Homo sapiens: one gene and its partners. The protein of the gene in region 1 purifies or fractionates together with the protein of each later gene. This does not show direct contact. Each region holds a gene or a part of one and is shown on either strand. Other genes may lie near its edges. The genes, in order: CDHR4, DNAJC16, MRC2, CLSTN3, TSEN2, SKIC3 and GUSB.

Region 1 (4,157 bases):
CCAGCTGAGGTGCCGGTACTGGTGATGGTGACACCCATCAACGAGTTCTCCCCAGCCTGTGCCCCTCGCACGTTCCGGGTTCAGGAGGATGCGGCGCCCCACACTCTACTGGGCTCCGTGGTGGGCACGGATATGGATTACCCTCATGACAACATTGAGTACTACACCTCTGGTGGTCCTACCACCTTTGCTGTGGACCGTCTCAGCGGTACATCCACCCCAGGGCTGGGATGGAAACAGGGAGCCAGAGTTGGCCCTGCAGGCTGAAGCTGTGGTCTCCCCCTCTAGGGGAAGTTCACCTCCTGGGACCTTTGGACTATGAGCAGCAGAGGCTGTACAGGCTCACTGTCCTTGTGATTGACCATGGCCAAGACCAGAACCCCAACCATCACCTCTCAGGCTCCTGTACCATTACCATCGAGGTTGAGGTAATTGCGTCCTAAGGCTTTGGAAATAAATACTTGGAAAGACAGGAGTTCAGATTGCCCTGTGGTGTTCTGCTTTTCCACTCTGTGCCTTGGTTTCTTCCACGAGTTGGCTGGAGAAGAGTGGGGCCTAATTGAAAGCTCTGGAGCCTGTTGTGTGATGACTTCATCACTTGATGCCTAGGCTACGGCTGTGGTGAGAAGAAGTTGAGGGGCTGGCTCAGAGGTTTAGGGGGTGGGTTCCACCCACTCCTAACCTGGTTCCTTTCTGCAGGATGTGAATGACCATGCCCCCGAGTGTGAGCCCCCATTTCAGGAACTCACCATCTATGCTCCTCTGGGCCGTAGCGTGGAGGTGACCAAGATGTCATGCCAGATCCCTCAGGAGCCACAGCGCCTGATCTACTCCTATAGCATCGTGGGAGGTAGGGGACATGGGCACCACCAGGTTGTGAGTGAGGGGCAGGCCAAGGCCAGCAATGGTCTCTTCCTCCTGTCATTCTGCTTTCAGGGAATAGCCAGAACCGATTCATCCTGCAAGGGGCCATCCTGGTGCACAGTGACCTTGTGTTGGGGCCGTTCTGGCCAGAGCAGCCCCGTACCTATGAGCTACTGATCTGTGTGGCCGATGCAGGCCCCTCCACCCCCCACCTCAGCACCACAGCCACCATTATTGTGCATCTAGTTCCCCGGAGGGCCAGCACAGTGGCCACCAGCACCCACAGAACCACAGTGAGGAGGCTCCTTGGGCCCTCAGCAGGGTGGGAAGGGTGGACCTTGGAGAGTGAGGAGACCCAGTTTTTCAGGTGGAACTATGGGGAAGGCAGTTCAGAGGGAAGCGCAGAGTGCGGAGAGCCCAGCAGTGTTGAAGAGCAAATCATGGGTGTGGGGTGGCTTAGCCCGGGGAAGGGTTGGAAGGCTGGATGGTCAGGGCATTTTGGCAAGGCAGTGGTGAGGCTGTGGCCTCCTTTTCAGGTGCCCTCAACGATGACACCCATGCTCGTGACAGACACAGAGGCTTTCTGGCAGCCACAGCCCTGGTTTGTGGTGGTGTTGACAGCAACTGGTGCTCTTCTCCTCTTGGCCCTAGGCTGGCTTCTTGGCAGGCTCCTCCAGGGGTAGGGATCCTATCCTTGTGCTCCCTACTTGCCCCCAACCCACCTATGGACCCCAGTTGTGATGGGTGGTTTCACCCAAGATTAGATGACAATGCCCAAGTAGGTGGGTGACGAACTGATATTGAGGAGGGCTACTCTCCCTCCAGAGGTCTTTAGATTAGGGTCAGAGAGACACTGGGAGGAAGCAACTTCCATCACCGGCAGAATCCAGTCTTGGAATGGGAGGAGGGTAGATAAGCTCAGGGCTTGAAACTGTGAGTCTGTCATACATTGGGCATTTACCCCTATTCCTGACTTCTGCCCTCCACTGGAAAGCTTTCCTGCTCCTGTAGACTCTGAAGTTCCTTGTGGACATAGGACTGAGCCCAGGGAAAGGGGATGTAACAATGTGGGCACTGCATACAGACATTGGTTGTTCCCAATATAAAGGAATGGGTGAATGGTGCTGATTCCTGGAGCCAGTAGGCCTGCTGCCCTCACTGCTTCGTTACTCCTCCTGGCATTTTAGGTTGGCCCAGCTGCTGCAAGCACCCAGCAAACCAGCCCAGGCTTTGCTGCTAAACAGGTCAGTCTCCTTTGCATACTTCTATGCCTGGGATCCCATCTCTTAAACTCAGGTTAGGGCCCAGAGCCTTGCCCTGTACTCTTGCTCGTACTTTGCCCCAGCATCCAGGGAACTGAGGGATCCATCGAGGGTTTCCTGGAGGCACCGAAGATGGAGATGTCCCAGGCACCCAGCAGTGTCATGAGTCTGGTATGTCAGCTCACCATCTCAAGTAGTGGACACCAAGGGTGCTTCAGAGTACTCCCCTGCCCCCTCCAAGCCTTTTTTCCCATGCCCCTTTTCCGATGAATGGGTATCCTTGTGGAAATGCCCACACTAGCACCATCAGAATGGAGGAGGCAGGTGGGCTTCTGGCCCCCTAGGGGCAGGCCTTCATCTGCTCCCCTGTGGGCAGGGTTCAATTCATTGCATCTTTTTTTTTTTTCCCTCAGCAGCATTTTGATGGCAGAGCACAGGACTCCCGTGAGTCCCCCTCTTCCTAAGCTATTCTCTGCCTGGGCCCTCACCCCATCTGAGTATCTCCTCCTCTCTTTACCCCATCTCAATATCTCCTCCTACTCCCAGGAACCCACCATCTATCTGCTTTTTTCCTGAATGGGGTCTGCTCTCATCCCCGCTCACTCTTCATCCATCCTTTGTCAAACGTCTAGGGGGTCAGGAGATGACTCATATCTGGTCTGGTCTCTGCCCACAACGGGAGGAGGGATGATGGTGAGGGGAGAGGCCTCCAGATAGTCCAATGTCACCAGTGATTTATGGGAGAGTAATCTGGTATTGCCTTAGGGAAGCTGGTGTCCAGTGTTGGAGAATCAAGGAGGCTTCCTGTGCATTTGAGTCAGAGTTGAGAGAATTTGCTGAGAAGGGAGGGAGGGGACAGGTTAGATTCCAGCGAAGGTGGGATGTCACACTGAGGGTCCTGGAGGAATAATCTCCTACCCTTAAGTAAGGGGGAGGGAGGCAGTTCTTCTGGGGCCAGCAGCACCCCCTGCTCTCCTCTCTCTCCTACCGGTTTTAGGTACCGGAAGAGACTACCTGTTTAACACACACACAGGAGCCCGGCGCTGGCTCTGAGGCCAAGTAGCTGTCTTACTATGTGTGGAATTTCTTTTTCACACCATCATGGGCTGTATTTTCAAGTTGATTCATAATAAACAAAATTACAAAAAGAAAAGTTCTAGCCTTGTAGCCAACGTGTGGGAGAAGCTCTGAAATCTGTGCCTCCTTGTTCTCACTTGGACAACTCCCTACCTTGTGAGCAGACTCTAGGGAGCAGTAAGGTTTTCCTTTTCTCTTTCAGGGTTTTTTTTTTTTAGACAGGGTCTCACTATGGTGCCCAGGTTGGAATGCAGAGGCTATTCATAGGTGTTATCATAGCACACTATAGCGTCTAACTCCTGGCTTCAAGAGAGCCTCTCATCTCAGCCTCCTGGGTAGCTGGGACGATGGGCGCACCACTGCACCTGGCTTTATTTTTCTTTTAAGAAGGTATTGTGTGATGCTCAGACTGACAGTGTGACTGATGCTCTATAGAAGTAATAGGCTATCATCCTTGTCAGTGACTGAGGGGCCTCCAATCAGCATGTCTCCTCAGGGCCACCTGCTTCCTTTTCCTATCCAGAAGAGAGAGAACAATGCTGCGTGTGTGTGTGTGTGTGTGTGTGTGTGTGTGTGTGTGCGCGCGCGCGCGCGCATGTGTGTGAAGGAGAGAGGGGGCGGGGAGAGGGAGAGAGGGGGAGAGAGAGAGAGAGAGAGAGAGAGAGAGAGAGAGAGAGAGAGAGAGAGAGAGAGAGAAAGATAGGGTCTGGCTGTCTGGCTTTGTTGCCCAGGCTGGAGTGCAACGGTGTGATTGTGGCTCACTGTAGCCTTGACCTCCCAGGCTCAATCGATCCTCCTACTCAGAATCCCAAGTAGGTGGGACTACAGGCATGGACCACCATGCCTGGCTAATTTTTAATTTTTTTGTAGAGATGGGATCTCTCTATGTTGACCAGGCTGGTCTTGAATTCCTGGGTCCAAGCCATCCTCCCCCTTCAGCCTCCCAAAGTGCTG
Region 2 (4,336 bases), on another chromosome or scaffold:
CTCTGGCCTCTCTCTGTCCCCTTTTCATCTTTTTTTTTTTTTTTAATATATAGCACTTGTTGATACCTGTCATAATATATCTGTTTTCTGTCTTCCCCACTGGAATATAAGCTCCATGAGGGCAATAATATTGTCTATATTACCTGACATATACTAAGTGCTCAGTAAATATTTTTGGGAGAATGAATAGCTAAACTTTCCATTGGAACCTTGCAAAGGAAGCCGTTCAGAATGAGGCTCAGTGGCCTCTGGCCTGAGAGAGATTTGACCAGCCCTCCCTATACTGGAAGAACTAGGACAAATAGTTTCTAAAAGGCCCTGCCGGCCAGGAACAGTGGCTCACGCCTATAATCCCAGCACTTTGGGGGGCTGAGGCAGGCGGATCACTTGAGGTCAGGAGTTTGAGACCAGCCTGGCCAACATAGTGAAAACCCGTCTCTACTAAAAATACAAAAACTAGTTGGGTGAGGTGGTGCACGCCTATAATCCCAGCTACTTGGGAGGCTGAGGCAGGAGAATGGTTTGAACTCAGGAGGCGGAGTTACAGTGAGCCGAGATCACACCACTACACTCTCCAGCCTGGGCGACAGAGCAAGACTCCATCTCAAAAAATAAAATGAAAGGCCCTGCTGCATCAGAGATTCAGTGACCAACCCCTTAAATTCCTGGCAGGCACGATGGCTCATGCCAGTAATCCCAACACTTTGGGAGCCTGAGGTAGGAGGATTGTCTGAGGCCAGGAGTTCAAGACCAGCCTGGGCAATATAAACAAAACTATATATATATAGTTTTCATATATATAAAATTTCATATATATAAAATTTTAAAATTCGTAAATGTGGTAAAGAAGTTTGGTTTGGGAAAAACATCACAGATTGGGAAGAGAAACAGTTTGTTAATGACTTGGAAATCCTCCCTTAGTTGAAATGTCAGCTTTCACTGGGCACAGTGTATTCACTTCCATAAGATGAGCTCCTCGTCTTCTTCACCTTCACTTGCCATTATAGGTGCTGGCCCTGCCATCAGGGATTGGTTATAAAGTTTTGTCTTTTTGTTGTGCAGGTACTGTGTGGTTTTATTGACTGCTGAGACTACCAAGTTGAGCAAACCCTTTGAGGCTTTCCTGTCCTTTGCCCTGGCAAACACTCAAGACACAGTGAGATTTGTGCATGTCTACAGCAATCGGCAGCAGGAGTTTGCCGACACCTTACTACCAGACAGTGAGGCGTTTCAAGGGAAATCAGCGGTAAGCCACAGAGTCTCTCCTCATCCCAGGCTCTTCATAACCATGTGGCACTTGATTCTGTTTCCTTCTTCCTTGAGAGTGTTGAATACAGATTCTAGGAAATCTGAAACTCTGAAGCCTATTTTCAAAGTCTACTCTTTTGTTTTTCCTTTTTCTTGATTTTTTTTTTTTTCTTTTGAGACAGGGTCTCACTCTGTCTCCCAGGCTGGGAGTGCAGTGACATGATCTCAGCTCATTACAGCCTCGACCTCCCAGGCTCAAGTGATCCTCCCACCTCAGCCTCCCACATAGCTGGGACCACAGGCACACACAACCACGCCTGGCTAATTTTTTGTATTTTTTTGTAGAGATAGGGTTTCGACATGTTGCCCAGGTTGGTCTCAAACTCCCGAGCTCAGGCAATCCTCCCGCCTCCCAAAGTGCTGGGATTACAGGCATGAGCCACTGCTCCTGGCCTAAAGCCTACTCTTAAAACAGTTTTTGACCTGGTCTTTTTACATTCTGGATGTCAGCCTCAGGCCCCCACAGAAACCATGTTTTCTATCAGTGAACGGTAAAGGTCATCAGTGCTTTTCACCAGTTTTTTACTAAGGCAAGTCTGGTCTTGCAGCATCCTAGATCCTAGATTTTACAAATCCTTAGGCCACTGGTAATGTGCTCTGGAAATTTCTGCCCCCCTCTGCCTCTTTAACTTCATCCTGGTTGATCTCTCCTGCCTTTCTCCTGCATTGTCATCACTTCCTACAGAAACAAGAAATTCTCCTCTGACTTTTCATCATTTTCGCAATCATGGAAAATCTCTCTAAAAAACAAAGGTTTCCATTAATATTAAGTCAAGGTTATAGAGCAAAGTCTATTGAGAAAAAAGAGCTTTAACTTTTAACAAAAGCTTAGGAAAGTCACCATAAAAGTTATTTCTTAGGCCGAACGCGGTGGCTCACACCTATAATCCCAGCACTTTGGGAGGCCGAGGCGGGTGGATCACTTGAGGCTAGGAGTTTGAGACCAGCCTAATCAACATGGTGAAACCTCATCTCTACTAAAAATACAAAAATTAGCTGGTGTGGTGCACACCTGTCTGTAGTCCCAACTACTCAGCAGGCTGAGGCACGAGAATTGCTTGAACCTGGGAGGCAGAGGTTGCAGTGAGCCAAGATCGCACCATTGCACTCCAGCCTGGGAGACAAGGGCGAAACTCTGTCTCAAAAAACAAACAACTGGGCCAAGTGTGGTGGCTCACAGCTGTAATCCCAGCACTTTGGGAGGCCAAGGCAGGCAGATCACGAGGTCAGGAGATCGAGACCATCCTGGCTAGCATGGTGAAACCCCATCTCTACTAAAAAAAAAAAAAAAAAAAAAAAAAAATACCAAAAATTAGCCAGGCATGGTGGCAGGTGCCTCTAGTCCCAGCCACTTGGGAAGGCTGAGCCAGGAGAATGGCGTGAACCCGGGAGGCGGAGCTTGCAGTGAGCCAAGATCACGCCACTGCACTCCAGCCTGGGCGACAAAGCAAGACTCCGTCAAAAAAAAAAAAAAAAGCAAACAACTGTAACTTAACCATGCTTTTGAAACTTCTGATGTTTTTTCTCTACTTTTCTTCCAGGTGTCTATTTTAGAAAGGCGCAACACAGCAGGAAGGGTGGTGTATAAAACCCTGGAAGACCCTTGGATTGGGAGTGAGAGTGACAAATTTATCCTCTTGGGCTATCTCGACCAGCTGCGTAAAGATCCAGCTCTTCTGTCCTCTGAAGCAGTGCTTCCTGACCTGACCGATGAACTTGCCCCTGTGAGCATCGGGGCTGGGAAGGGTGGGACACCAGGAGGGCTTGTGAGTACACAGTGCTGGTGGCGGATTTCTGCTCAGAGCAGAGGTCCAGCAGCAGCACTGTGTTGCAGGGTAGAGGGACTCTCCCTTCCGGCTTTAGTCCTGACCATCATCCATTTTCTCTCTACATAGGTTTTTCTCCTTCGATGGTTCTACTCTGCTTCTGACTACATCTCAGACTGCTGGGATAGCATTTTTCACAACAACTGGTAGGGATATTGCCAGGCTGAATTTCTTTTTCTCTGTTAATACTGATATCACTGTTTTTCTTTTGAAAAGAGTTCATCATTATTAAATTTCAAGGTACACTTGATGGGGCAAGTGGAAGAACGTTTACACATTTTCTATTCCCCTTTTTCTTTCTTTCAGTAACTTCCCTTTTTTTTATTTTTTACTTTTTTTTTTTTTGAGACAAAGTCTTGCTCTTGTCCCCCAGGCTCAATCTGGGGATCACTGCAACCTCCGCCTCCCAGGTTCAAGCAATTCTCCTGCCTCAGCCTCCTGAGTAGCTGGGATTACAGGCACCTGTCACCATGCCTGGCTAATTTTTGTATTTTTAGTAGAGATAGGGTTTCACCATGTTGGTCAGGCTGGTCTCAAACTCCTGACCTCAGGTGATCCACCCGCCTCGGCCTCCCAAAGTGCTGGGCTTACAGGTGTGAACCACTGCTCCCGGACATTTTTTATTTTTTATTTTTTTTTGAGACAGAGTCTCACTCTGTCACTCAGACTGGAATGCAGTGGCACGATCTCAGCTCACTGCAACCTCTGCCTCCCAGGTTCAAGCGATTCTCCTGTCTCAGCCTCCCGAGAAGCTGAGATTACAGGCACCCACCACCATGCCCAGCTAATTTTTGTATGTTTAGTAGAGACAGTGTTTCACCATGTTGGTAAGGCTGGTCTCGAACTCCTGACCTCAGGTGATCCACCCACCTCAGCCTCCCAAAGTGCTGGGATTACAGGCGTGTGCCACCATGCCCGGCCACTTCCCTTTTTTTATATTGGCTGACTGACCCTTTCCCACTGGCTAGGAAAGGATCACCCATGGCTGCCATTCTGGGCAGCAGAGCCTGGGACTGTCTCTTCATCAGGGAACCTCTGGTGCCCAGCACAGGGCCTGACACACGTGGAGTCCAGTGTATAGATGTAAAAGGAATGAGTGAATTAACCTCAAGAGGGATACCCACTCCCACCTACTGATGAGACCATGAGCCCCTGAAGGACAGAACCACATCTCATTCGTGTTTGTGATTCCTGGCACCCAA
Region 3 (4,336 bases), on another chromosome or scaffold:
GAAAAGAAAAAAGAAAAATTAACTTCAAAGCATTTAATTTACTTTTGTAAAAATTGCAAAATACATGCTTGTAAAGTCTTCAAATAGTATACAAGTATATAACATAAAATTAAATGAAAATTCCCTTCCCCCAGGCCCACTCTCCAGGTGAAACCCCATTGTAGCCCCCCATGTTGTCTTAATGCCTGTCTTGCATGTGGTGAATGGGGACCAGAGTCACCATGTGAGGGGCTGGCCTCTTGTGGTGGACAGCCCCGTCCTGGGGGGGCCTTTCCTGGGAGACCCCCTGAGTTCCGAGATAGAACTTTGTGGGGACACAGAGCCCATGGGCTGGGTAGCTGAGCAGAGATTCCACCGGGCTCAGCCCTCTGTGGGTGACTTGGAGGCCCTCTTGCCCAGCTGGAGTTTGGATGGGATTAGGGGTACTAGGGAGCCCCTTCCCAGCCCTATGAGGTGTGCAGCAAGACCTCTCTCTGGTTCCTGGGCTGACTCAACAGCAGAAGAAGCCTTAAAGCCACTATGGGGTGCCATTGCCTCTCCCACCTGCTGATCCCTGTGAACACCCAGCACTCTGGGTTTTAGGGGATTTCTCCTGAGGGTCGAGGGGCTTGGCAGCCTCTGGTGTCCAGATGCCAAGGGCCTGGCCCCTGTCCACCCCCTGCAGAGGTCTACACCATCCAGGGAAACTCCCACGGAAAGCCGTGCACCATCCCCTTCAAATATGACAACCAGTGGTTCCACGGCTGCACCAGCACGGGCCGCGAGGATGGTCACCTGTGGTGTGCCACCACCCAGGACTACGGCAAAGACGAGCGCTGGGGCTTCTGCCCCATCAAGAGTGAGAGCTGTTGGAGCCGTGGGGGCGGGGGCAGTGTTCCTGGAGGGAGGCTGGTGCTGAGGGGCCCCGGGGCCCAGGGTGAGATACTGCCCCCTCCCCTACCTAGTGTAGCCTTTTGGTGGGGGAGGGTCTGCACTCCCGAGGGACCCTGGAGGGGGCCTGAAGGAGAGGGCTGTCGTGGTGGCAGGTAACGACTGCGAGACCTTCTGGGACAAGGACCAGCTGACTGACAGCTGCTACCAGTTTAACTTCCAGTCCACGCTGTCGTGGAGGGAGGCCTGGGCCAGCTGCGAGCAGCAGGGTGCGGATCTGCTGAGCATCACGGAGATCCACGAGCAGACCTACATCAACGGTGAGCCGGGGCCTGATGCCTGCTCGTGCCTCTGGAGGGCCCGGGCCCTTTCCGCTTGTGGGTTGGGGAGAGGGCGATGGGGAGCGGGGGAGGCTGGGGCTGGGGATCCCCTGTTCAGTGTCCCTCCTTGCTGTCAGGCCTCCTCACTGGGTACAGCTCCACCCTGTGGATCGGCTTGAATGACTTGGACACGAGCGGAGGCTGGCAGTGGTCGGACAACTCGCCCCTCAAGTACCTCAACTGGGAGAGTGGTGAGGCACAAGGTTGGGGGCGCAGGGCAGCATAGGGGCCCCGCGGGCTCTTGGCCTCCCATGGACTCCTCTCCTCATGTCCTCCTGCAGAGGGGCAGTGTGGGTAGGGGAAGCACCGACCTCCACCCCCCTCCCCAGACTGCGCCCCCCTAGCCCATGTAGGGCGGCGCTGCCCCAGGCCGAAGGTCTTGGTGCATATGGACTGGGTGCCAGCCTCCACTCACCTCTTCAGCCACCCCTGTGGGCAGCGGGCACCAGCGCACCCAGCAGCCTGGACGGGGAGGCCGGGGCGGGGCTGGTACTGGTTACTGGGTAGAAGGTTCAAGGCGACGTGCACCCAGGTTAGAAAGCGCGGAGGACCCCGTGGTCTGGGGCGGAGCTGGAGCTGAGCACCAGGCTTCCCGAACTGGCTCAGGCTTCCGAGGGAGCAGAGGGAGGTAGGAGGTTCTGAGCAGGGCCCCGGGAGCCACGGTGTGAGCTTCTCTCTCCGGGGGTGCTGGCGCCCTGCCCTCCCCACAGACCAGCCGGACAACCCCAGTGAGGAGAACTGTGGAGTGATCCGCACTGAGTCCTCGGGCGGCTGGCAGAACCGTGACTGCAGCATCGCGCTGCCCTATGTGTGCAAGAAGAAGCCCAACGCCACGGCCGAGCCCACCCCTCCAGGTGAGCCAGGGACTGTGCCGCAGGGTGGGGAGGGGCTCCCAGGGCCAGGGACACAGCCACAGAGCCGTGGCAGGCCCAGCCTCTCCTCCGGTTACCACCACAGCACAAGGGGACTCTGGATCCTCTGACTCTTATTTCATTGTTCAGTTAAAGTCTGAGCAAATTGGAATATGTCATTAATTCATTTGGGGAACATGTGCTGAGATCTGTGTTAAATGCTGGCAATACCCACTGTTACCTCGTAGAGACCACAGTCTGCTGGAGGTGACAGACATCTCAATGCAGTTAGACTATCCCAGGTCATGAGTGATTATAGAAATATGGATCAGTGTTAGAGGAGCATAGAGAAGAAACTGATTCAGCTTCTGAGAGTTAAGGAGGGGTTTATGGAAATAACATTTGATTTGGGCCTTTCAAATTGAGTCTAAGTTTAAAAGATATAAAGAGGTGTGGGGGAAGGGCATTCCTGGCAGAGGGAAGAGCATATGCAAAGGTGTGGAGGCCTAGAACTACACTGCAGCTTTAAGGGGTGGTGAGTGATGGCCGGGCACCGTGGCTCACACCTATAATCCCAGCACTTTGGGAGGCCAAGGCAGGAGGATTGCTTGAGCTCAGTAGTTCAAGACCAGCCTGGGCAACATAGCGAGACCCTGTCTCTGCAAAATATTTTTAAAAAATTAGCTGAGTGTGGTGATGCACGCCTGTCTACTAGGGAGGTCGAGGTGGGAGGATTGCTTGAGCCTGCAAGGTTGAGGCTGCAGTGAGCCTCGCTTGCACCACTGCACTCCAACCTGGGCAACAGAGCGAGACGAGACCCTGCCTCAAAAAATAAATAAATAAATAAATAAATAAATTTAAAAAAAAAAAGAAAAAAGAAAGAAAAAGAAAAAAATGGATGGTGCCTGTTGCAGTTTGGGTGGAGTATAGATTCTAACCACTTCAAGTATGGTCATCCAACCAGCAGCACAGCATCCCCGGAGGGCTTGTTAGAAATGCACAGTCAGGCCCGCCCCAGAGTAATTGAATCAGAACCTGCATTTAACAAGATCCTCAGATGATTCATGTGCAGACACAGTTTGGGAAGCCCTGGCTTAAAGGGCATGGTGAAGAAGAGGCAGGTTGCAGCCAGTCTCTGCAGGGTCTTGGCTGCTGGGCCAAGTTTGGGTGGGGCCAGGTAGGCTGTGGGGAGCCTTTGAAGATGTTTAAGCCAGGGAGTGTCTGGTTCTCGTTTGTGATCATAGAGACAGCTTTAGGGGCCTCGTGGAGGAGTTGGGGCAATGGACAGGGTCTGCTTTAGGGATTCTGCCCCTTACTGCTGTGTGGCCCTGGGCAAGCAGCTTAGTCTCTGGGGTGCAGAGTCCTCATTGCAAATGGAGAATGAAGCCACCCCCCTTGCAAGGTTGTTGTGAGGAAGGCTGGAGATCTGGCCTGGCACGAAGGAGTTTTTCTGTAGTTGGCTGTGGATGTTTACTGTGGTGTAGGTTGGAGGGGCTGTGCAGTTTCCTGCGAAGCTGTGGGGTGGTGAGGAGACTTTTACAAAGAAAATATGGCAACACACACACACACACACACACACACACACACACACACACAACACTAACTACAGACAGTAAAGAGTTTACAGAGCAAAACTTCTGCTCCTGACCATGGAAGTCTTGCCAATGATCGACTCAGGACTGGTTTTTTTGTTTGTTTGTTTGAGACAGGGTCTCACTCTGTCACCCAGGCTGGAGTGTAGTGGTGCGATCTTGGCTCACCACAACCTCTGCCTCCTAGGCTCAAGAGATTCTCGTGCCTCAGCCTCCTGAGTAGCTGGGATTACAGGCGGGCATCACTACTTCCCGGCTAACTTTTGTATTTTTAGTAGAGACGGGGTTTCACCATGTTGGCCAGGCTGGTCTTGAACTCCTGACCTCAGGTGATCTGCCCACCTCGGCCTCCCAAAGTGCTGGGATTACAGGCGTGAGCCACCGCACCCCGCCTTTTTATTTTTATTTTTATTTATTTATTTTTTGAAACAGAGTCTCGCTCTGTCGCCCAGGCTGGAGTGCAGTGGCACAATCTCCACTCACTGCAACCTCCGCCTCCCAGGTTCAAGCGATTCTCATCTCCAGGTTCAAGCGATTCTCATGCTCCAGCCTCCCGAGTAGCTGGGATTATAGGCATGAGTGTGCCACCACGCCCGGCTAATTTTTTTGTATTTTTAGAGATGGGGTTTCACCATGTTGCCCA
Region 4 (4,336 bases), on another chromosome or scaffold:
TGCCCTGAGGTGCTTCCTCATCTCCAGGGGTGGAGAGCATCACTGTGTATGAAGAGATCCTGAGGCAGGCTCGTTATCGGCTGCGACACGGAGCTGCCCTCTACACCAGGAAGTTCCGGCTTTCCTGCTCGGAAATGAATGGCCGTTACTCCAGCAATGAATTCATCGTGGAGGTACCCAGAGAGTCTCCTTCCTTCCACAGTTACCCACCCCCAGAAAGGAGCTGAGGTGGCATGGACTCAAAATGTTAGTTGGTGGGCATGGACATGGCAGCGTGGAGGGCTGCTGGACCTTGCAGTGGGTGGAGGAGAAGGAGATGGGGGCAGTAGTTAGGAGATGGGGCTGGGGTCTAGAGAAGTGGGGAGGACCTGGGAGAAGCGTGTGTGCCCATGGAGCCCTCCCTCTGCCCAGGTCAATGTCCTGCACAGCATGAACCGGGTTGCCCACCCCAGCCACGTGCTCAGCTCCCAGCAGTTCCTGCACCGTGGTCACCAGCCCCCGCCTGAGATGGCTGGACACAGCCTAGCCAGCTCCCACAGAAACTCCAGTACGTAAGCCTGGTGGGGCTGGGCAGGGAGGGGCAGGTGGCAGGTGAGTGTGTTGGGACAGGTATCCTCCCCCTCCACCTCTGGGAGAGGACAAGGTAGGTGGAGCAATGGGTTCTGTTCCCTGTGGTACCTGCCTTAGTTGACAGCTATGGACCAATCCCTCTCTCCCTTTGGATCATTCACTTTCCCTTGTGAAGAACATGAGCCTTGTGTCATTGTAGGGATGCTTATGCCTGCAGTCATAAAGTCAGTGTGGGTTTAGGCGTGTTTGTTATACCTGATGATGCCTCCTTCCCCAGCCCCAAGCAATATCAAATTAGCCCTGGACCTAGGATCCTCTGTGGTGAAACTATCAAGTATTTACTAAGCACCTACTATGTACTAGCACTGTCCTAAGATGATCTAAATGATTTATAGGATAGATCAGTCCCTATCCCCAAGGAGAGAATTGGTACTATTACATGTAAAATTATGTGCTACGTATGCAGTCACAAGAATATTTCTAAAAAATATATGCAAATATGCAAAGCGTTACATTCAGATGGAGTGCTGCCCTTCAAAGCTGCCCTTCAAAGCAACCTGGCCGTGGTCCCAAAGGTTCCCGGTCATGGTCCTTTACGAATGGTGCAATTTTATTTTCAACTTTTGAGTTGCGTAATTGTAGAAAAACCAGAAAATATCAAATATTTCTTTTAAAGAAGAAAAATCAGGCCAGGCACAGTGGCTCATGCCTGTAATCCCAACACACTAGGCTGAGTCAGGAGGCTCACTTGAGTCCAGGAGTTTGAGACCAGCCTGGGCAACACAGTGAGACTCTGTCTTTACAAAAAATAAAAAAAATTAGCTGGGCATGGTGGCAGGTGCCTGTAGTCCCAGCTACTTGGGAGGCTGAGGTAGGAGGATCTCTTGGGCCTGTGAGGCCAAGGCTGCAGTGAGCCATGATCACACCACTGCACTCCAGTCTGGGAGACAGAGCAAGGCTCTGTCTCAAAGGAAAAAAAAAAAAAAAAAAGAAAGAAGAAGACGAGGAAAACTCAGCCATAATTCCGTCAGAGAGGAAACCACTGATAATATGAGTATTCTGTTCCAGTCTTTTTTCTATGCTTAATTTTTCCTTTTTAGAAAGTTAGGATTAGCCTATTTTGTAACCTGATATTTACACTTCATATTATAAAACAAGTATTTTCCCACATTATTAAAAATTGCAAATGATGCTGATGTTGTTGAAAGTGATTTTTGGAACCCCTTCTTAGAATTGCTTTCAGAGCCAATTTATGAGGTGCATTTATTTTTGTTATTTTTTGGACATAACTTGCTTTTGACCCTGTTCAGTGTTACTCAACTTCATCACCCAGTTTTGCCAAAGTTGAATCTGGATATAATTTTAAGTTTTTAAACATTAAACCCACTCTCAAAGGCCATAGATCGGTCACCTTTGAAAAGAGTCAAAAGGTTGTGTCACAGGCTTTTGAGAATTGAAGGCAATTCTCAAAGGAGTCCACTAGTGCTTTCTGGGAAGAAATTTGTGGTCTCTGAACACTATGTGAAAGTACAGAACTTATTTCAATATATGTGATGGGTAATAATAATTATAACAAACACAGGGTGCTCTCATCATGTGCCAGGCACTGTGCTCGGGGGATTACGCTTATTAACTCATTTAGCCATCATAAACAACCAATGAAATGGGTACCAGAATTATCCCCTTTACAGGCAAGGACACAGAGGCACAGAGAGTTCAAGTGCCTTACCCAAGTTCACGCAGCTAGAAAGTAAGTGGAGCCAGGATTTAAATCCAGGAGGCATGATTCCAGTCTGTGCACTAACCATGGCCCTCACCCTTCTCCCCAGATGTTTGATGCTTTAAAAAAGATTAGTCTTATTACTTTAGAGTTGCATATAATTAGGGGGAGCCCCTGAGGGGCTTCCCAGGGTTTTCTGACTGAGGCCAGCTCCTCTGATGCCCCCAGGGATTCAGTCTGGCTTCCTCTCCTTGTGCAACGGCCACCACCTACACTGTCTCTTATTTTATTTTATTTTATTTTTCTGGGACTGGCTCCCTTCTTCCTTGCTGTCCCTGAAAACAACCGCAGAGGCTTTTGGGAGGGAGAGACAGGGTCTTGTTCTGTCGCCTAGGCTGGAGAGCAGTGGTAATCCTAGCTCACTGGAGCCTCGAACTCCTGAGCTCAAGCAATCCTCCTGCCTTAGCCCCCTGAGGAGCAGATGCATGCCACTATGCCTGGCTATTTTTAAGACTTTTTATAGAGACAAGGTCTCACTTTGTTGCTCAGGCTGGTCTTGAACTCCTAGGCTCAAGCGGTCATCCTGGCTCAGCTTCCCGGAGTGCTGGGATTACAGGTGTGAGCCGCCGCACTTGGACTTGCAGACGCCTTTTTCAGTGTTCTACTGTGATTCACTATAGCAAGTAGGTGGAAGTGAGGATTAGCGGGGAATATAAGGCATAACCAAGCTGCAAAGATTAGAGAAGTTTCACATAGTATTTAGTCAATAGAGACATGTTAGCAAGCTAAACCTATTTATTTCAAATAAACTCTTGAGGCCAGCTATAAATTTTTTTCCTTCTTGTGATTCCATAGCACTTTCTCCAGTTCTTTCATTGGGGATCATTCCACTCAATCTTTTCTGGTTGGATACTAGGTCCTGCTACTCTGATTAGGCTCAAGGTAGATAGGGGTGCTGCCTGGCCTGGTGAGATTCTCGATCCTTACTTTCTTTGGTATAAGGCCCCAGGTGAGAGACTTCTTGTTCTAGGAGCCCAGCACCTTCTCCCCTGAGTGTCCAGCTGCCCTGCATGGGCTGGTCTGGCGGGCAGCGTTTCTCACCCCTCAGCCCCTGGAGGAGTGTCTGTTCACGGCACCCTTTCACCTCCCCTCGGTGAAGCCCAGTCTCCCCATCCTTTGTTCTGAGCTCATGTCCAGGCTGATCAAGCTTCCCTCAGATTTCAGTTGAGAGCAGCAGTTTTCCTTTGCTTCTTCTCTTATTTTGACCTGAATAGGACACAGAGTTCGTAGCTTCCCTGAGGGCACTGGTGATTGGCATGCCTGAGCTGACAGGCCATTCACGGCATAAAACCCTTTCCATATGCCTTTTCTGACTCCGCAAGGTGCTCCCTCCCTTTCACCTACAAATCTCGAGTGGTGTTGCAGAACTGTGGTTTCACAATATCAAACCATTCTAAACATGCAGAAGCAGTGAGAGGTACGATCTCCTCCAGTGGCACGGAGGCCCATTGCTCTAAATCTCCTAAGTGCACTAGAGAAAGAGAGATGAATGTGAACTGGAACCAGGGTAAACTGGAACAGTCAGGGGAGATTTTGTGGCACATGTAGAGTTTGCATTTGGACCTGAACTGTAAAAGGGATTTTTGGATGGGTGTGAGAGAGAATGGGAATTTGAGAACCGGGGGTAGATAGGTGGTTAAGAGTGTTTATGGTTAGAGAGAATAAGGTTGGTTGAGAAGAGCAAGCCGGATGATGAGGGTATTATGTATCTACTCATATCAAATTTTGATGACTGCCAGAATCACCTGGGGAGCTTTAAAAACTCTCGGCACCTAAATTATACCCTAGAATGTCTAGGGGGTGGGAGCCACGTGTCAGTGGTTTTTAAAAATCCCATGTAATCTTTAAAAGTTTGGGAATAATTTTCCTCTTTTGTTTCCTACAAGTATCTGAAGCTTTGCAGAAAGAGTTACAAAGCAATAGGACAAAAAGAAAATGAATGAGGAAGTAAGGAGGAACAGGTAATGATGAAATAAGGATCCAATG
Region 5 (4,336 bases), about 37 Mb from region 1:
CATGTCTGGAAGGCCTACTGCGAGCCAAATTCCTGAGGGGTGTGCAGCCACATGAGCAAGAGTAACACAAGAACTTGGATTATGAGGGGTGTTTTGTCGCAGGGACCCTTCCATCCCACACACCTGGGTTGGAGTACAGAGTTCTTTCGATCAAGTGTCACAGCTAAATCTTGCCTTTTTTAGATGTGACAGCAGTCTGAGAGGGAAAAACGCTGAACAAATGAGGCAGACTAAAATACAACTCTTATTTGTTGAGAGAATTTATTAGAACTTCTTGAAGGTGGCCATTAAATCTTTTTTCATTTTTTTAAAATTCCGAATGTAATGTATATAAGTCAGCTGCTGAGCAGAGGTTATAAAAGTGAAAAATCCCATAAAAGTCCAAACCATTCCTGGAAGTCTTTCAAAAAGTGCCTTACTAGAGACCAACATCCTGCCCCCAAAAAGCAGTGTTTATTTTCAGTTTTAGAATAAATTATTGTCTCTCCAATTGAGTACTAAATGTGATAATTTAGTACTTGGGCTGAGGGATAAGTCAGCAAGCAAGGTAAAGCCTAGTCTAAATATGCTCTTAAGAAAATCTCTTAGGTTTCCTGTGAGCATGCAGTAGACGTGGTTTTGTTATAAACACTATACAGCAAGATGCATGCATAAATATAAAATGTACAAAGTAATGCTCAGTATGTAATTCCTTCAAGGAACCTTATTTAGAAATTAATCTAGCATGTTGCTGCTTAGAACAATGGCAATTCTAGGAAGGTTCCAACTTCCCGATTCTTCTTTTTCATGGTTATCTTTGTAATTGATGTATCATTTCCTCTAACTCCTCTTTAGTCTGTGTTTTTCTGTGTCCTCATATAATTCCTCAGCTTCTTCCTTGAGAAGTTGGATACTGATATCATCACACGTTGGATAAGCCTTTTCTTAATGGTCATGACACTCTTAAAGCCACTCACCTTCCCCTCCCTCAGTTTTGGCCACCTTCTTGACTGTTTCAGGCTTGATGGCATCCCTTGCCAATGGGATGCAAGTACTGAGTGCAGGAGCCACCTAAGTAATTAGTCTTATTTTTTCCCTTGTGAGGATTCGGAGTCATGTAGGTTAAACGTGTGTATGATTTGGCCGCACTGTATCTTCAAGCACCAGGTAAGCTCTCAGTTGAAATCAAGTCTAGACCTAGTACTGGGGGAGCAGCAGATTCAAGTTTCCCATCTCATTCCAGGACAGCTGCTCCTCGAGTGGAATGTCTTGCACCATTTACATTGTTTTCCCATGTATATGGTTACGTTTTCCTAGGTTAAGTGCATCTACTGTATCTCTGTGTCTGCATCACACAATATGTTCACATTTACTTCCCTCCTTTAGACATTAGTGGATAACAGCCAGTTCCGTTAGCTCCAACCTGCTTTCTGTGCTTCCAGCTATGTTATATACTTGTTTTGTCTCCTTGGATCCAATGTATGGCCCCAGAGGGACACGTACTGGCTTTGGCTTTCTGTTCTCCCTCATGGTGCTGGGTGCACAGTGGGTAATTCCGTTACTGCTCAATAACCCTTCACCGTCTGATTTTGAGAAAGAGTCATCAGACAAAAGTAGATAGACCCTGCCTGTGCTTTCAGCAGAATCTAGAGAGAGGGCATGGGCTTGGGAGTTCAACAGACCTGGGTCACCCGATGCCACCACACTCGGGGTCGTCTACAAATCTCTCTAACCTGAATCTGTTTCCTATTTGTAAAATGGTGTTGCTACTGCTCACCCTGTAATACTAATTATAGCTGATACATGAATGGTACACGCTATGTGCCAGGTACTGTTCTAAGCACTTTATGGATCTTAACTGTAAGATAGAGTCGTTCTTATCTTGATTTTGCAGGTGAGGAAACTAAATCACAGAGAGAGTCAGTGACTTTTGCCCAAAATCACACTGCTAGGAAGTGGTAAAGTTGATTCTGATGCTGATAGTCTGGCTTTAGAGTCCCTGCTTGAAGCCAGTAGCATTTGGTAGTATATAATCGACCCTTAAATAACTGCTGCTGTCATTATTATTTATTAATGTACTTTAAAAATTGGGAGCTGATTGACCCAATGTTTAGTGTGTATTGTAAGATCCTCTTGGAAAATGAAGTGCCTGCAAGATTTAATTTGTTGAGGACAGGGTCTCAGTTTTGTCTTTGTCTCCCCAGCACCTATGATTATTAGGAATTCCTGGTAGTAAATGTCTGTTGGGTGAGTGAAATGGAAGCACTCCTGGTAGACAGAAATCCTGTTGTGCTTGCTCTCAGGAGACCTAACATTGCAGCTTTGGGCATGTCACTAGGTCTCAGCGTTGTCAGCTGGAGTAGAAAGATTACCACTCATTTCCTGGGGTTTATTGTGGGGATTAATTGCAGTATTCTAGGTCAATATGATTTACATTGCTCACACAAACTGTTCTTACTGCTTTTAGTTTATTGCTTTATAAATACTCTATTTCTTCCCACAGACCACTAAGTTTTCTGAGCCTAGGTACAGATGTACTCACATTTTGGATCAAGGTAGTTATTGATTGTCTGTTTCTTTCTGTTTGTTGTCTACTCTTTAAAGAATACCTCCTCTGAAAAATGGCAGAAGCAGTTTTCCATGCCCCAAAGAGGAAAAGAAGAGTGTATGAGACTTACGAGTCTCCATTGCCAATCCCTTTTGGTCAGGACCATGGTCCTCTGAAAGAATTCAAGATATTCCGTGCTGAAATGATTAACAACAATGTGATTGTGAGGAATGCGGAGGACATTGAGCAGCTCTATGGGAAAGTAAGTGCAGGCAGCCTTGGTAAGATTACTTTCAGACAACCCTGAGCAAGCAGTCCTTTCCTTCTCCCCATCCCAGCCATACCCCCACACCAACCATGAACAATGTGTATTCTTTCCTTGCGGTTTGGTCCAGTTGTAGGAAAAGTACAATTTGAATTAGTGCCCAAAAGCCATATGTTAGGGTAATAGAATGACAGATGGAGCACCCCTGCCCACAAACCTTTATTTCAGTGATGAAGTAGGTTCAATGGATTGACTATTTTTTTTGTCTTTAGTTGTAAAAGCAATGCATGTTTGTTAAAGGAACAAAAAAAGTAATTTACAGAAATGTAATGGGTAAAAAAGTGAAAATTCCCCACTCACTCCCATCCCGTTCCCAGAGGTAGCCACAGCGTGGCATAGTGTCCCTACTCAGGCACGGATCAGATGGGGCTTTGGCATGGAGCTCCTTATCTGCTGCCTCCTGGTTGGGGACCTCTTCTCAGATGAGGACAAGTTCTAGTTTTTACTGTTTTCCAGCATTGATCAAGTTGAATGAAGACTGGTAGTTCTTTAAAAAAAATTTTCCATAATCTGTTCATTGCTGTGGGCATTTTTAAAAAACAGCTTTATTGAGTTATAATTTACAACTATAAAGTCCTCCCATTGTAAGTATACAATTCAGTGATTGTCATAAATTTATAGAGTTGCACAACTCTCACCACAGTCCAGTTTTAGAACATTCCCATCACCACAGAGTTCCCTTGTGCCCATCACACTTAATCCCTGCTCCCACTCCCGGCCCAAGGCAGCCACGGAATGGCGTCTTGTCTCCATAAATGTGCCTTCTCTAGACACTTGATAGAAGAGTGGGTGGCACTGGCCATGGTGAGGCAGGAGTCTCAGTAGGCCAAGGGCAGCTCACCAGGGAGGCCTTCATTTACAGTATATAACATTAAGCAAGAGGCTTTATAAAGTGCTGTATGCATTATTTATTCTTGGTTTTTGTTGTTGCTGGGTGTTTTTTTTGTTTGTTTTTTGTGACAGAGTCTTACCCTGTCACCCAGACTAGGGTGCAGTGGCATGATCTCAGCTCACTGCAACCTCTACCTCCCAGGTTCAAGTGATTCTACCACCTCAGCCTCCCGAGTAGTTGGGACTACAGGCGCATGCCACCATGCCTGGCTAATTTTTGTATTTTTTGGTAGAGACAGGGTTTCACCATGTTGGCCAGGCTGGTCTTGAACCCCTGACCTCAAGTGATCTGCCCACCTCGGCCTCCCAAAGTGCCGGGATTACAGGTGTGAGCCACCATACCTGGCCTCTTTATTCTGATTGTTAATCTAAATGGAGAAAGGGGTGTTTGTTTTATTCTTTCAATTTTCTGTGTGTTTAAATATTTTGTAATGAAAAGGGGAAAAATACATGTTGTTTTTGGAATCAGCAGGAATGAGAGGAATACTTCAATTCTGGAGTACAAAAGAATCCAAGAGGTTTTTTTGGACCTAGTGGGCAGCATGGCTCCTGCCTTCAGGCACACTGTGTTCCCGAACCATATGTAGAGAAGA
Region 6 (4,336 bases), on another chromosome or scaffold:
TTTTGTGTTAGAGGTATGAATTCACCACATCTGCACTTTTATAAGTCATTCATACATTTGGGAACTTCTAAAGTTATTTGTTTGCTTTTTGATTAAGGACTTATAGTACTCATCATATAAGACTATTTCGTTAGTTCTAGACTTCATTCTCGTTTCTTCCTTTTGCCCTCTTAGGTTATTACTACTTGATTATTATTAATTTGAGATTCCAAATTTTTTCCTTCAGGAAGTGTTCTGCAGATTTGACAAGAATAATTAAGGACACTGTTAGCTTCATGGTAGAGAATGTTTATTTGTTTCATTCAAAGAAAGATTCATATTTCATAATGAAACCGATTTCTTAGTGTTTTGAGTTAAAGCAATTTGAAAGTCCATAGTGAAAAAAACTATAACTGGTAAATTATGAATTATAGCATTATGCCCTAAAGATTTTTGTCAGGTAAAGACTATTACTGGTCTAAATTAAAATTGAGTTTTTAAATCAGTTTTATGTATTTCAAAGGGCTTTGTATTTCATAATATTTCTTTAAAATCAGAACCGTTGTCAGCATCTTTCAACAATTAATATTTTCTTGTTTTCTTTTTGCCATCCCACCAATAATGTGTTTTGTGTGAATGCTTTATAAAGGTTTTTCAAATAATGTTTTCACAAAAAAACAAATGACTGCTATTTTGGAGAACTAGCAGAGTCCAGGTCTGAGATAGAAAATGTACAAGATGAACCAAGAACACCTTGTCATGCTAGAAAGCAAGAAACTATAAAAGGGCTCAGACTACAAAAGGGCTCAAGAGCTAGCATAAAGAGATTCTTACTGGCTAAAAAGGGCGTTACTAATGTGGTATGTTGAAACAGATCAAATATTTTAAATCCATGTGTTCATGATGATTCAGAAAACTCAGCAAATGTCCTCAAGAAAACAAATGTTTGGGGGGATGCTAAGAACCCAACTATGAAGAATAAAGGCATTTATCCTGCCTTTATCTGAATCATTCCTCAGGATAATGAAATAACGAAGGTAGGAGAAATTTGCCTTTGTTGAAGTATTCTGTCTAATAAGAGAAAATGACAGAAAATCACCATTTTGCAATCCCCAGTGAATTAATAGATCTAGGCATCAAGGGTTAATGGCTACTAACATCACACAAAGGCAATCAGGCTGGGCACAGTGGCTCATGCCTCTAACACTTTGGGAGGCCGAGGCAGGTGGATCACTTGAGGTCAGGAGTTTGAGACCAGCCAATATGGTGAAACTCTGTCTCTACTAAAAATAGAAAAATTAGTCTGGCTTGGTGGTATGCACCTGTAATCCCAGCTACTTGGGAGGCTGAGGCAGGAGAATCGCTTGAAGCCAGAAAGCAGAGGTTGCAGTGAGTCAAGATCAGACCATTGCACTCTAGCCTGGGCATCGAAGCGAGACTCTTGTCTCTCCAAAAAACAAAAAAAAAAAGACAGTCAGACACAACCAAGTGCAAATACACCTGAAGACCTGAAGTATCCTTGGGAATCTTCAAACCTCTGAACCCAACTACTAATATACAGAAAATACAGGGAACCAAGGAACATGTTAAACACCTTGAGAATACGTTTAGCAAAATCCAGACTCTGAGAAACTGTGACAAATAGGCCATATTTTTCAACAGTTAAATTGTAAGGAAGAAAAAAAAAAGAGAAGGAGGGGGACCTTATTGATTAAAAGAGACAAGGCATTATCATTAAGTTCAAATGTATGTGTCTTATTTAGATTTTGATTTTTAAAATTGTTAAAATATGAGACAACTGAGAAATTTGATAGTGTTAAGGATGTTGTTTTTGTTTAGGTATGATAATGGTAATGTGGTTATGCAACTTAGAAATGAACTTTTAGATATAGATACTGAAGTATTACAGGTAAAAAGTTACAATATCTGGGATTTGTGTCAAAATCATCTGAGCAGAAGTGTGGTAAAATTAGTGGAGGTATAGATGAAAAAAATGATTGCTTGTGAGTTTGTGGTTTTGTAGCTGGATGATGGGTACATGTGGGTTTATTATACTAGTTTCTGTAATTTTTTTATGTATATGAGATTTTCCTTAATAAAAAGGTTATGAAGAGTGAAGATGTGTTATTAGTGATAGAAATCAGGACCTCTATTTCTTTATTCTATTAGGACCATGCTTTTCTGTGTTCGTTCGTTAATTAAAGCAAACATTGCTGTGGTTGTGTTGAAGGAGATTTATAGCAGTTCTTTACAATTATTTTCTAGATTTCTGATGCAGATAATATCCCAGGACTTTTGGTTCTCAAAAGCTTGGCCTATCGGAACAAAGGTTCATTTGATGAAGCTGCAAAGGTTGGCTTTTTTATTCAAACTGAGCATTTTTTGAGTTAAAAGCATTTTTATTTGGCTATAGAATTGACAGGTGTCTACTTTATAGATTATGGAAGACCTTCTCTCTTCTTACCCTGACCTAGCTGAAGTTCATGCCCTTGAGGCTTTGATTCATTTCACCAAAAAGGACTATCTACAAGCAGAAAAATGGTAAGGATATATAAATTGCTCATAGAACCATTTACATCTTAGTTCTTTATATTTCTGAAAAATTCAAAATGAGTAGGCTTGATGAAGATTTGATTTTTCATGAATTTGATCTTTGTAGGCTTTAAGTTTTAGTATTTTAAAGAAATGTATTTAGCATGTAGTACAGTAGCTATAAAAAATTATATGATGGGTTTCAAATCTAATTAGCTGATCTTGGCCGGGCGTGGTGGCTCACACCTGTAATCTCAGTACTTTGGGAGGCCAAGGCAGGTGATCTCTTGAGCGCAGGAATTCAAGACCAGCCTGGGCAACACGATGAAACCCCATCTCTACTAAAAATACAAAAAGTAGCTGGGCGTGGTGGCACATGCCTGTAGTCCCTGCTTCTCAGGAGGCTGAGGCACGAGAATTGCTTGAACCTGGGGGGTGGAGGTTGCAGTGAGCCAGGACCATTCCACTGTACTCCAGCCTGGATGACAGAGCAAGACTCGGACTCAAAAAATAAAAAAAAAAATCTAATCAGCTGATCATAATGTTCACTAAGCAGATGTAATGTTCAGTATAGTCTGAACACTTAGCACATGGTAGTGCTAAAAGGCCACTGTGCTTTTTTAAGATCCTCTTCTTCAAAAACAAATCACTTTTTTCCTTATGATAATATAAATCCTAAAGTGATGATTGGTTTCTAATTTGGCACCTCTGAATCACTCAAACTTTGATTGTTCCAACTAGGAGTCTCCTATATTGCGTGTGGGTGTGTGTGTATTTGTTTTACTATTTCTTTTTATTACCCTTTGGTGGCTTAGTTTTCAGAGAGCTCTTGAGAAAGATACCGAAGTTGCAGAATATCATTACCAACTTGGATTAACATACTGGTTCATGGGTGAAGAGACAAGAAAAGATAAAACAAAGGCTCTTACCCACTTTCTGAAGGTAAAGCAAGTGCTACAATTCAATTCCTAGTTGAAATGGCATTATAAAATCATAAATAATAATCATATACATTAGTTACAATTACTCTTTACTGAACTGTTTTTTGTGCTTTATCTTTCATATGTCAGGTTTTGTGATGGTGTTATATGGGTTTTCAAGGAAAAAATTAAAACATAAAATGTGAAAGTTACTTTTTGAAAAGCATGTGTTGTAGAAAACGAGACATAATTATCTCTTGTAAACAATACTTTTAAGGTAATTTTCACTGTAGTTTTATGAGCATACAAGTTAGATGTTTAAATTCCTGTTTTTTTAGATGTTTAACATCTATAAGTCCTACATTCTTATCTTGACTTGTAAGAGCAGATTAATTCAGTAGCAGCTCTAATTTCACATTTCCTTTACCAAAAAACAAAATATTTTTATATTTCCTTTTACTTTCTATAAGCAGTGAGGGACAGCTTTCCTGTCTGTTTTAAATCTTACATCAAAGGATTTTTTGGCATATTTTTGTATGTTTAATGAAATTATTTCTTTTTTCTTTAATCTGTGTATTTATCTTCTGTATTTGTAAAGATACTCATTAAATGAACTTTTAATGTTCTGTTATTATCAATATTTATTTCAAAGGCTGCAAGACTGGATACATATATGGGCAAAGTTTTCTGCTATTTAGGTCATTATTATAGAGACGTAGTGGGAGATAAAAACAGAGCTCGTGGATGTTATAGGAAAGCCTTTGAATTAGATGACACTGATGCTGAATCTGGAGCTGCAGCAGTTGACCTAAGTGTGGAGCTTGAAGATATGGTATGTCTAATAATCACTTTTGCTTTTTGTTTTTTTTATCCTGAGTATATAAATGAAAATATTTTTATATATG
Region 7 (4,336 bases), on another chromosome or scaffold:
GCAATCTCAGCTCGCTGCAACCTCGTCCTCCCAGGTTCAAGCAATTCTGCCTCGGCCTCCTGAGTAGCTGGGATTACAGGTGCATGCCACCACACCCAGCTAATTTTTGTATTTTTTAGTAGAGATGGGGTTTTGCCATGTTAGCCAGGCTGGTCTCAAACTGCTGATCTCAGGTGATCTGCCCACTTTGGCCTCCCAACGTGCTGGGATTACAGGCGTGAGCCACCACACCCGGCCAGCATTTTTACTAGAAAGAAATGTGTTCAGGACGCATTAGAAACTAGCCAGTTGGACACAGAAGCCCCTGCTGCTCAGCTGTAAGCACCGCTATGCTGAAGCTTGGGGTGGTCCTACTCGGTCGTCACCGCCCTGCTCCTTGGAGTGACTTTTCTGGCCCTCTGCAGTCCACAGTGCTGCCTTGTGAAAGCTCCCTCAAGATCCTCTGTGACAGCCGGGCATGGTGGCTTACACCTATCATCCCAGCACTTTGGGAGGCCGAGGCAGGCAGATTACTTGAGATCAGGAGTTCAAGACCAGCCCAGCCAACTGGTGAAACTTCATTTCTACCAAAAATACAAAAAATTAGCTGGGCGTGGTGGCGCACGCCTGTAATCCTAGCTACTCGGGAGACTGAGGCATGAGAAGCACCTGATGGTGGGAGGCAGAGGTTGCAGTGAGCTGAGATCGCACCACTAACATTCTAGCCTGGGCGACAGAGCGAGACTCTGTCTCCAAAACAAAACAAAAGATTTTCTGTGAGAATGACTGCATCGGCCCCTCGGGTGGCAGCGCTTCTCCAGGGCAAGGTGAGGGGAAGCCCAGTGATGGGAGTGCTGCCTGGAGAGGAGTCAGTTCCAGTGGTGGGGGCCCTGGGCTTTGGCTGAGGGCTGTGCGTTGGCAGCTGCTGTGCCTCTCACAGCCCTTCCCAGCGGCGCACGTCATGAGTGTCAGTGTGGAGTCCCAGGCCTACCTCCTCTGGGCCACTTTGTGACCATGTTTCTTGCCTATGGCAGGGTAATTTCAGGATCTAAATTGGTACACTTGGACGTTCTCAGCCCCAGGAGGCAGCTGTTCCCGTTCTAGGTTTTTTTTTTTTTTTTTTTTTGGTAGAAATGGGGGCTTGTGATGTTGCCCAGGCTGGTCTCGAACTCCTGGGATCAAGTGATCCTCCCATCTTGGCCTCCCAATGTGCTGGGATTACAGGCATGAGCCACCGTGCCCTGCTAATTTTCTTACTACTATTTTTTGTAATGCTGCAGTCTTGCTGTGTTGCCCAGGCTGGTCTTAAGCCATCCTCCTGCCTCAGCCTCCCAGAGTGCTGGGATTACATCCCCCTTACCTTCTCTGCCAGAGGAGCCCCCGCAGTGTGTGAATGCTGAGTCATGCTGTCTACTGAGTGCTGAACGGGCTCTGCTGCTCTGGTCCTAGGCTCCGTATGTGGATGTGATCTGTTTGAACAGCTACTACTCTTGGTATCACGACTACGGGCACCTGGAGTTGATTCAGCTGCAGCTGGCCACCCAGTTTGAGAACTGGTATAAGAAGTATCAGAAGCCCATTATTCAGAGCGAGTATGGAGCAGAAACGATTGCAGGGTTTCACCAGGTAAGCAGTGTTGAGCTTTCTGCTTGTGTGTTCTCTCAGGGCAGAGATGTCACTCACCTCCTCCAGCCTGACCTGCGCCCACTGCACTGCTCCCCTCGCTTCAGCTTTGGGCTCTCCTCCCACGGCCCCGTCCACGTTCCCTCACCGCCAACAGCCAGGCCTGTGCCCCACTCACTTGGTCCTCAGAGGTGGCCTCCTTACTGGCTTTGTTTCCAGATAGCCTCCTATCACCCGTGCCCAAGTGGTCTTTCTAACAGATCCAAATTTGTATTTGTTTTTGAGACCGGATCTCTCTGTCACCCAGGCTGGAGTGTGGTGGTGCGATCACTGCTCACTGCAGCCTTAACCTCCTGGGCTCAAGTGATCCTCCCACCTCAGCCTCCTGAGTAGCTGGGACCATAGGCACATGCCAACACGCCTGGCTAATTTTTTTACTTTTGTAGAGATGGGGTCTTGCCATGTTGCCCAGACTGGTCTTGAACTCCTGGCCTCAAGTGATCTGCCTCAGGCTCCCAAAGTGCTGGGATTACAGGTGTGAGCCTCTGCACCAGCCACAGTTGAAAATTTTGGGAGTCCTGTCATTGGCTCCCCCAGGCCCACAGGACAAAGCCCTAACCTCTGGTCAGGACACTCAGTGTCCTCTGCTCTCTCCTGGGTTTTCATCCCCTTCTCCCCTCTATCCCAGCCACTGATCTGTTTCCACTGCCCTCGCTTGCTCTCCTGCTCTTGCTTGAGCTGTTTCTTCTGCCTGGAATGCCCATGTTGGCACCATAATCACCAACTAAAATATCCTTTTTCTTAATTTTCATATTTTAGATATAGGGTCTTGCTATGTTGTCCAGGCTGGTCTCAAACTCCTGGACTCAATTGATCTTCCTGCCTTGGCCTCCAAAAGTGCTGGAATTACAGGCATGATCCACTGTGCTAGCCTTTTTTTCTTTTTCTTTTTTTCAGGGTCTTGTTGTGTTGCCCAGGCTGGAGTGCAGTGGTGTCATCATAGCTCACTGCAGCCTTGAACTAAAGGGCTGAAGTAATTCTTCCACCTCAGCCTCCTGAGTAGCTGGGACGACAGGCATGAACCACCATGTGCAGCCTATTTTTAAATTTTTTTGTAAAGATGGAGTCTATCAGGCTGGTCTAGAACTCCTGGCCTTACGTGATTGTCCTGCCTCAGACTCCCAAAGTGCTGGGAATCCAGGCATGAGACACCATGCCCAGCCTGTCGTCATTTTTTTAATCTATCTCATTTTTTTGTCCTCCTCACCAAAGATATGTTGGTTTGTCTTGTGAGGTTTTTTTTTTCCTGTGGATTCCTGAACCCCATCCAGCCCCTCATTCCCACCCCAGCCAGCTCACACTTGTTTGTCACAGCTCCTGGTTGACACACAGGGAACAGCCACCCACAGTGGACTGCGCTGTTCTGTTTGCACCCTTAAATTTATCGTGCTTACAGAATGCCACTTCTGCAAACTAGTCAAGTAGGGGAAGTGGCTCTTGGATATATTTGCTTGCGCATCCTCTTTGAAAAGGTAACCAGCTCTGAATTCTTTTTTTTTTTTTGACACAGAGTTTCGCTCTCGTTGCCTAGGCTGGAGTGCAGTGGCGCGATCTCGGCTCACTGCAATGTCCACCTCCCTGGTTCAAGCGATTCTCATGCCTCAGCCTCCCGAGTAGCTGGGATTACAGGCATGCGCCACCACGCCCACCTCATTTTGTATTTTTAGTAGAGATGAGGTTTCACCATGTTGGTCAGGCTGGTCTTGAACTCCTGACCTCAAGTGATCCGCCCGCCTTGGCCTCCCAAAGTGCTGGGATTACAGGCATGAGCCACCGTGCCAAGCCCTAGCTCTGAATTCTTAAGAAACTCTTGAGAGGGTCTAGGTCAGTGCTGATAGAACCTCTGCAGTGCTGGGCATGGTGGCTCACACCTGGAATGCTGGCACTTTGGGAGGCCAAGGTCAGAGGATCTCTTGAGCCCAGGAGTTTGAGACCAGTCTGTGCAACATAGACCCCATCTCTACAAAAAATTTAAAATTAGTTGGGCATGGTTATGAGTGCTTGTAGTCCAAGCCACTTGGGAGGCTGAGGTGGGAGGATTGTTTGAGCCCAGTAGGTCAAGGCTGCATTCAGCTATGATTGCACCACTGTACTCCCACCTGGGTGACAGAGTGAGACCTTGTTTCAAAAAATAAAAAAAAACAAACTTGCAATGATGGAAATGTTCTATATTTGCACTGTCTGAAATGGTACACACTAGCTACACATGGCTACTGAGGTCTTGATATATGACTAGGATAACTGAATTGATTTAGTTTAATTAAATAAATTTTTTTGAGACAGCCTCACTCTGTTGCCCAGGCTGGAGTGCAGTGGCATAATCACAGCTCACTGCTCAACCTCCTGGGCTCAAGCGATCCTCCCTCCTTAGCCCCAAGTAGCTTGAACTGCAGGCGTGCGCCACCACACCTGGCTAATATTTTGACTTTTTGTAGAGACTGGGTCTCACTGTGTTGCCTAGACTAGTCTTGAAATCCTGGGCTGAAGTGATCCTCCTGTCTCGACCTCCAAAAGTGCTGGCATTACAGACCTGAGGTACCATGCCCAGCCTGGTTTGGTTGAGTTTAATTTAATTTAATTTTTATATATATATATATATTTATTAGAGACAGGGTCTCACTGTGTCACCCAAACTGGAGTGCAGTGGTGTGAACACAGCTCACTGTCGCTTTGA

What was found.
Region 2: the proteins of CDHR4 (region 1) and DNAJC16 purify together in Homo sapiens (affinity purification with mass spectrometry; one large-scale study listed by BioGRID and IntAct). This does not show direct contact.
Region 3: the proteins of CDHR4 (region 1) and MRC2 purify together in Homo sapiens (affinity purification with mass spectrometry; one large-scale study listed by BioGRID and IntAct). This does not show direct contact.
Region 4: the proteins of CDHR4 (region 1) and CLSTN3 purify together in Homo sapiens (affinity purification with mass spectrometry; one large-scale study listed by BioGRID and IntAct). This does not show direct contact.
Region 5: the proteins of CDHR4 (region 1) and TSEN2 purify together in Homo sapiens (affinity purification with mass spectrometry; one large-scale study listed by BioGRID and IntAct). This does not show direct contact.
Region 6: the proteins of CDHR4 (region 1) and SKIC3 purify together in Homo sapiens (affinity purification with mass spectrometry; one large-scale study listed by BioGRID and IntAct). This does not show direct contact.
Region 7: the proteins of CDHR4 (region 1) and GUSB purify together in Homo sapiens (affinity purification with mass spectrometry; one large-scale study listed by BioGRID and IntAct). This does not show direct contact.

The regions. Positions count from the first base shown.
Region 1 is NC_000003.12:49,789,854-49,794,010, reverse strand, and holds the end of CDHR4 (cadherin-related family member 4 precursor), read left to right. Parts: intron 1-4; coding exon 5-208; intron 209-288; coding exon 289-428; intron 429-534; coding exon of another isoform or gene 535-609; exon of another isoform or gene 610-699; coding exon 700-850; intron 851-936; coding exon 937-1,157; intron 1,158-1,400; coding exon 1,401-1,543; intron 1,544-2,051; coding exon 2,052-2,108; intron 2,109-2,209; coding exon 2,210-2,297; intron 2,298-2,539; coding exon of another isoform or gene 2,540-2,542; coding exon 2,543-2,570; intron 2,571-3,123; coding exon 3,124-3,179; 3' UTR 3,180-3,279; downstream 3,280-4,157. UniProt on the Homo sapiens protein: Cadherins are calcium-dependent cell adhesion proteins. They preferentially interact with themselves in a homophilic manner in connecting cells; cadherins may thus contribute to the sorting of heterogeneous cell types.
Region 2 is NC_000001.11:15,561,080-15,565,415, forward strand, and holds part of DNAJC16 (dnaJ homolog subfamily C member 16 isoform 1 precursor), read left to right. Parts: intron 1-1,062; coding exon 1,063-1,246; intron 1,247-2,849; coding exon 2,850-3,032; intron 3,033-3,203; coding exon 3,204-3,280; intron 3,281-4,336. UniProt on the Homo sapiens protein: Plays an important role in regulating the size of autophagosomes during the formation process.
Region 3 is NC_000017.11:62,665,430-62,669,765, forward strand, and holds part of MRC2 (C-type mannose receptor 2 precursor), read left to right. Parts: intron 1-664; coding exon 665-838; intron 839-1,025; coding exon 1,026-1,190; intron 1,191-1,327; coding exon 1,328-1,441; intron 1,442-1,960; coding exon 1,961-2,104; intron 2,105-4,336. UniProt on the Homo sapiens protein: May play a role as endocytotic lectin receptor displaying calcium-dependent lectin activity. Internalizes glycosylated ligands from the extracellular space for release in an endosomal compartment via clathrin-mediated endocytosis.
Region 4 is NC_000012.12:7,150,517-7,154,852, forward strand, and holds part of CLSTN3 (calsyntenin-3 precursor), read left to right. Parts: intron 1-27; coding exon 28-173; intron 174-411; coding exon 412-547; intron 548-4,336. UniProt on the Homo sapiens protein: Postsynaptic adhesion molecule that binds to presynaptic neurexins to mediate both excitatory and inhibitory synapse formation.
Region 5 is NC_000003.12:12,487,201-12,491,536, forward strand, and holds part of TSEN2 (tRNA-splicing endonuclease subunit Sen2), read left to right. Parts: intron 1-2,583; 5' UTR 2,584-2,600; coding exon 2,601-2,789; intron 2,790-4,336.
Region 6 is NC_000005.10:95,523,582-95,527,917, reverse strand, and holds part of SKIC3 (superkiller complex protein 3), read left to right. Parts: intron 1-2,244; coding exon 2,245-2,331; intron 2,332-2,416; coding exon 2,417-2,520; intron 2,521-3,326; coding exon 3,327-3,453; intron 3,454-4,083; coding exon 4,084-4,263; intron 4,264-4,336. UniProt on the Homo sapiens protein: Component of the SKI complex, a multiprotein complex that assists the RNA-degrading exosome during the mRNA decay and quality-control pathways.
Region 7 is NC_000007.14:65,965,000-65,969,335, reverse strand, and holds part of GUSB (beta-glucuronidase isoform 1 precursor), read left to right. Parts: intron 1-1,428; coding exon 1,429-1,605; intron 1,606-4,336. UniProt on the Homo sapiens protein: Plays an important role in the degradation of dermatan and keratan sulfates.